Regions from separate parts of the Homo sapiens genome. Here region 1 is linked to region 2. A link means that fine-mapping ties the variant in region 2 to the plasma level of a protein whose gene starts in the linked region. Region 2 holds a variant in brackets. A gene starts in the other region. All regions are shown on their reverse strands.

Region 1 (2,837 bases), not on the chromosome of region 2:
AGCGTCTCTCCTTGTCTGTCTTCTCCATCCAGAATTCAGATGGAGCAGGGGCGCCCTGGGCCCCTATAGGCTCCCATCCCCCAATCTTGTTTTTTGACAGTCTGGAGTCTGAACTGGAGATTTAAGTAGGAGAGGGTGGGGCTTCAGTCTTGGGCAGACAAATGGGGGCTCCTGAGCCCCCCTCAGACACTTTTACCCCCTTGGCTGGTTGGGGACCAGGAGAGAGAATCCAGGCCTCTAAGGGACTCCTGGAAAAGGGGACTTGGAGCCGTTCCCTTCCCTGGGCGCTGCAGCTGGGGGCGGGGCTGCGACCAAAAGTGGGTAATTGCACCCCCCAACTCTCATTTCAGGCACCCCCATCCGCAGCAGCCTTGGAGGCCAGGAACCCTTTATTCCTGGGCGCCCGCATCGGGTGGGGACCGGGAGGAGGGAGATGAGACGCCCGGACCGGGAGGGGTCCCGAAACTCGAGCAATGGCCAAAAATAATAACACGGAGAAGGCTCTTTGCGCAAAAGAAGGAAGACAAACTATGCGTCGCTCCGGGCAGCCGGCGTTACCTGGAGTCGGCGGGCGGTGGCCGCCGAAGCGATTACTCACCGCGTGGCGCACCCCACCCGCGGGCCGCTGAGTGGATTTTTCCGTGGCGGGGTGTGAATAGGTCCCGGGGAAAGAGCTTCTTACCGCTCTCCTCCTGGGAATCCCTCTTACTGCGGTGCGGGACCCAGTTCCCGCGCAGGCCTGGGTCCCGGCTCCCACAGGGGACTACATCTCCCCGTCTGCCCACGCAGGAGCTCCCTCCCGAGGCCCCCGGGGCGCCCAGAGCAACCTCAAACCCATCCCGCGCGCGAAGGGGACAGCGCAGCCAGGGCGAAGGCGAGGGACTCCGTGCCTTCCTGCTTTTTCTCCTTTCTTCCAGCAAAGCCTGGGGCCGAGGCTACTCGCGGAGAATCGAAAAGAGGCAGGATGAGGTGGGAGGGCTGGAACCCGCGCGCCGAGGGCGTGGGGCTGGGGGTGACTTTTAGGCCCCTGGGAAGGCTGAGGGGCTGGAGATGGGGGTAGGCGGGACTCAAGGACCGCTCGGTGGGGGGGGCGGGGCCAGAGCTGGGGTGGGGGCCGAGACAGAAGATTGGGCCGTGGAAGGGGGAATGGAGGAGTGGGGCAGGGTTGGGGACCAAAGGGGCCACTGAAGAGGCACTGGGCTGAGAGGAGGGTGCAGGGAAGTGGGCAGGGTTATGGAAACGGGATTGGGGGTGCCGGGTCCCAGACTGGGGGTGGGAAGCCTGGAGCTGGCAGGGTTGGAGAGGGAGGTCCTGGGCCGGTAGGGGTTGAGTTAGGGGGCTTTGGGCCGCGGGATAGGGCGCGCGCGGTTCTCGGTGGGGCGGAGGCGGGACGGGCGGGGCGCGCGGTGCCCGCGGGCGGGCGGGCGGCGGGGAGGCCGGTGCGGGGCCCGCCGCCCCCCCGGGGCCGGGCCGGGCCGGGGGCGGGGCCGGGCGGGGCCAGCGGCGCATTAGCGCCTTGTCAATTCGGCTGCTCAGACTTGCTCCGGCCTCCGCGTCCGCGCCCAGCGACGTGCGGGCGGCCTGGCCCGCGCCCTCCCGCGCCCGGCCTGCGTCCCGCGCCCTGCGCCACCGCCGCCGAGCCGCAGCCCGCCGCGCGCCCCCGGCAGCGCCGGCCCCATGCCCGCCGGCCGCCGGGGCCCCGCCGCCCAATCCGCGCGGCGGCCGCCGCCGTTGCTGCCCCTGCTGCTGCTGCTCTGCGTCCTCGGGGCGCCGCGAGCCGGATCAGGAGCCCGTGAGTACCCGGCGCCCCACTCCTTCCCCCCTGCCAGAGCAGAGGGCGGGCGCCCCGGGGGCAGCCGCGGGGGGAGGGGGCGCGGGCGCCACCTGGACGGCCGGGGAACAAAGGAAGGCGCCCCCGGCGCAGCCCTCGGGGCGCCCTCACCTGCGGGGCACACGGCGCCGCAGTCCACTGTCCAGAGAGTCCTGCTTCCGCGCCCGAGGCCCTGTTACCTGGGCAGCTGGGCCGAGGGCGCCAGGCCAGGCCCCCGGGGGCTGGGGGGATCGCGGCCTGAGACCCTCTGCATGCCAGGACGTGGCGGGCGCACGCGTCTGCTTCGGTGGACTCTGGGCCCCTGGGACTGCAGGGCACCGCTCCCAGGCGGGGGCGCACGCGGTTGGCGCGCTGGGTGCGGGCCCCCAGCGGGCCCCCCCAGGCGGAGGGATGAGCCCCACGGGGAGGGCGGGGCTGCAGGGGGGCCGCTCTGGCCGCCTGGCGCGCAGCCCGGGGTCCCGGGGGACTTGTGTCTCCACGGGCCGGCGCCACCGCCCTCCCCCTGCGGGACCCGGCGCACGGGGGTCCGCGGAGTCCCCGCCACCGGCGGCGCTTAGAACCGTTTTCAGCCAGGCTGCGTCGGGCGGAGAGCCTCCAGCGAGAGGAATCTTTGTGAGCGAGTGGGTGAGAGGGAGAGGGAGCGGGAGCCAGTGAGTCCGGGCACCAGCGGGCCCAAACTTTGAGGGGGCCCACTGGGAACCCGCTGCCCTACGGGCCAAGACCCCTGCCCTGGAGGGACTTCTGGCCTCAGGCACTCTGGGGCCCCCCATCCAAGGAACACCCCCGCAAGGATACGTCTCCGTATGCAGACCCGCTCTGGGACACACCCAGAGACACACAAAGAATCACACTGGCTTGTGGCCCGTCACCCTCGCCCTCAAACTCGCGCACACTGCATCCCAGGTGCACATTCGCGCACCATCGCGGACGCACACACATTCCATCCCCGACACACACATTCACGGTCACACACATCCCACAGGGGAGGCGACCCAGGGGCACAGAG
Region 2 (2,885 bases):
AGGTAGAACTTTGAACTCCTTGAGGCTCCCTAATAAAGCATCACTCTGGATTAACGGGAATTAGGAAACGTAATAGGAAATCCGGAGGAAAGACGTGTATTTAAGGGCAATCCCACAGGATGTCAGGGAAGAATACCAAGAACAGATTGCCACAGCCCTCGCATAAATTCATCTTCCTCTTTTTTTTCCCAACCAACAGGAATACGTTCTCAAGTTAGAGACATCCCTTTCAAGTTGATGCTCAGCACATAACTGCTTAATAAACGGGCACACCCTGCCCTCCATTCTGTTTGGCTCTGGCTGGAGAGTCAAAAGAGAGGGGGCCACGGGGAGGCCATGCGGGCCACATGGTTTTTCAGAGATCAGACGCTATCTGTAGACATTTCTATGGCTGCTAAAGACAAAACCAAAATAAATGTGCTGGCTGGCTTCCCACTTCCAACCTAAACCCATTTACTTTCTCAACTCAGTGACTTCCGGGCCTGTCTAAAAACAGAGGGGTGACCTCTCCGACGACAGCTAGTTTCTATAGTAATGTGGGGTGCGGGGATTCCCGGGTAGGCATCCCACAATGCCTCCGGGCTGCGCGAGGTTGATAAGGGAGCAGCACCGAGCTCGCCTCCACACCCCCAACAGCTGTCTCCTTTCTAGGATAAGCACAATCAGACGGGGTTGCCAGGAAAGAGAACTGCAGGCCAGATGTATGCCTGGCTGCCTTCGCCACTCGGAGGCAGGGAGCGTGGGGGAGGGGCCGCCAGTGCGGCAGTTCAGACTCCAGATGCTGCCAGGCAGGGTGCCAGGCCAGCCTTTTAGAGGCAATAATCCGAACAGTTTAAAGGAGTAGAGTCATTTTCAAAAAGGAAAAGAGCGCTCTTCCTGGTAGGGTAGGAGGAGACAAGGGTATGGATTTGGGGCGTGGGAGGCACGGAGGCAGAAAGGGAGGTACAATCAGCAATCAATCTCGGTGTCGCCCCTGGAATCAAGGGAAAAAGGAAACGTGTGAGATTTGGACATGCAGGCACCTTCCACTTAGGGAAGACTGCTTGTGAGAACCGTGAGGGATTTATGGATTTGTGTCTGGCCAAATTCCCTTTGTGTTCCAGAAAAGTTGCCACCACACAACCAACACAGGGCTACCTGAGGGACACATAGCCACGGAAGCCCCCGTTGGAGGGAAACTCACAGAGTAGCCAGGGAGGAAGGAGGGAGATGTGTTCGTCTACAGAATGAACATCCCTTGTTGCCCAGTGCTGGGGGTGTCATGTCACTCTGGACGTGCCTCCGGATGTCGCATTGCCTGTCACCTGGGAGGACGTCCGTCTCTGGTGGGGCCTTGGGGTTCTGATGTCAGAAATATCCTGTGTAAGCCCAAGAAGGGCTGAAATGTCCAAGCATGTAACGAGGTCTTCTGCTTTCTGCCCCTCTCTCCCTTCCCCGGCCTGTGTGTTCTCAGGGCAAGTCATTCATCAAAGACGCCTTGAAATGTAAGGCCCACGCTCTGCGGCACAGGTTCGGCTGCATAAGCCGGAAGTGCCCGGCCATCAGGGAAATGGTGTCCCAGTTGCAGCGGGAATGCTACCTCAAGCACGACCTGTGCGCGGCTGCCCAGGAGAACACCCGGGTGATAGTGGAGATGATCCATTTCAAGGACTTGCTGCTGCACGAGTGAGTACTGCCCCGCAGAGGGCCTGGGTGAAGGGGCCACCCAGCAAGGATGGCAATGTGTATGGGAGGAGAGCCGCGTTGCTTCTAGAGGCTGAATGCCT[G/T]TCAAATGGAGAAGGCTTCCATTTACTTCAGAAAGCTACACTGACTCTACTAAAAGGCCCCTTTCCTGCTGGCTTTTAGGAAAAGAGAGAATTCCCTCATCAGTCTCAAAATCACAAGCAACAGAAATGGGAAATCGTTTTACTAAGAATGAAATGTGTCGATTCAGTAATACTCTTCATCTTCCCCTTAGCCAAGAACCCACTAGCTCTCAGAATATTCTGAGTAGCTGTAGAGGTGTCCTTACAGACAGCAAATTGCTAATAACATTTGTTGAATATTTACTAAGCGCCAGGCACTGGGCTAAGGGCTCCTTGTGAATTTTTCACTTGATCCTCACCACAGCCCTCGTCACCTCCATTTGACAGATGAGAAAACTGAGACTCACTAAGGCAGAGCTCACACAGCTAGTGACAGGCAAAGCCAGACTTGGGACCTGGCTCCAGTCTGCTGAGCAGTCTGCCTCCAGAACCTATACTCTTAAATCCCGAAAACAGAGCTATAGATGCTTTTCCTGCCTCCTTAACTTTCCTTTCCCTTAGAAGGTTCGGTTTACCTTCTCTCATACATTAGTGCCCTCTCAGAGGAAATGCAAAACAAGTGCCAAAAACTTTAATCAGCTAAACACTTCTATGCCAAAACAAGGAAATGTGAACTTACTTATTTCAAGACTTGAAATTCAATGATAAATTCAGGATGCATCATTTCTTACAAAATATTTCAGCCACAGGATCCTAAATTTTGCAGCATGGTAAAGCATGTTGGTACACAATTGTTCCTAACATGAGGCAGGGCCAGGAGCCCCTGAAGATTTTTTTTTTAAATATTGACAATGGCTCTTTCCTAAGAGACACAGGGCAGAAAGAAAGCCACTAGCCAACCAGTTCAGTACAAGTCATTACCAGTTTGATGGCACTGTTGGTCTCTCCACGGTGACTCATTGAGCCAAATCGGTATAATTTTATGAACTCTTGATCCTCAGTTTGTGCCACAACCTTCTTCCAGTTATGTCCCTACCACACCAACACCACTTAGATGACAGAGAACAGCAAGCACCTCCTGTCTCTTTCCACTTGGTTATAAGGTCATAGGCATCTTGCAACACCCTTGCTACAGTGTTA

Direction of the effects. Alleles are on the strand shown, and positions count from the first base shown. The strength of an association depends on the size of the effect and on how common the allele is.
For the plasma level of the protein whose gene starts at base 1,535 in region 1, allele G in region 2 goes with a higher level than allele T (weak association).

The links. A credible set is the group of variants that fine-mapping cannot tell apart. PIP is the posterior inclusion probability: the model's chance that the variant is causal. Protein levels are from antibody-based Olink assays in UK Biobank. Linkage for the fine-mapping came from a reference panel and not from the study's own genotypes, which makes the PIPs less certain.
Region 1: it holds the start of CRLF1, and the variant in region 2 is the best candidate, but not a certain one, in a credible set for the plasma level of the CRLF1 protein (UK Biobank, PIP 0.62).

Annotation. Positions count from the first base shown.
Region 1 is chr19:18,605,497-18,608,333 of GRCh38, reverse strand. It overlaps CRLF1 (cytokine receptor like factor 1), which reads left to right and starts at 1,535. Exons shown (of 9, transcript NM_004750.5): 1 at 1,535-1,792. The coding sequence starts at 1,678. RefSeq lists an enhancer at 1,495-2,413.
Region 2 is chr5:173,321,999-173,324,883 of GRCh38, reverse strand. It overlaps STC2 (stanniocalcin 2), which reads left to right. Exons shown (of 4, transcript NM_003714.3): 3 at 1,454-1,665. Among named protein-coding and RNA genes, the nearest start is that of STC2, 5.0 kb to the left of the region's middle. RefSeq lists an enhancer at 641-1,141. The variant G/T (reference allele first, on the strand shown) is at 1,767.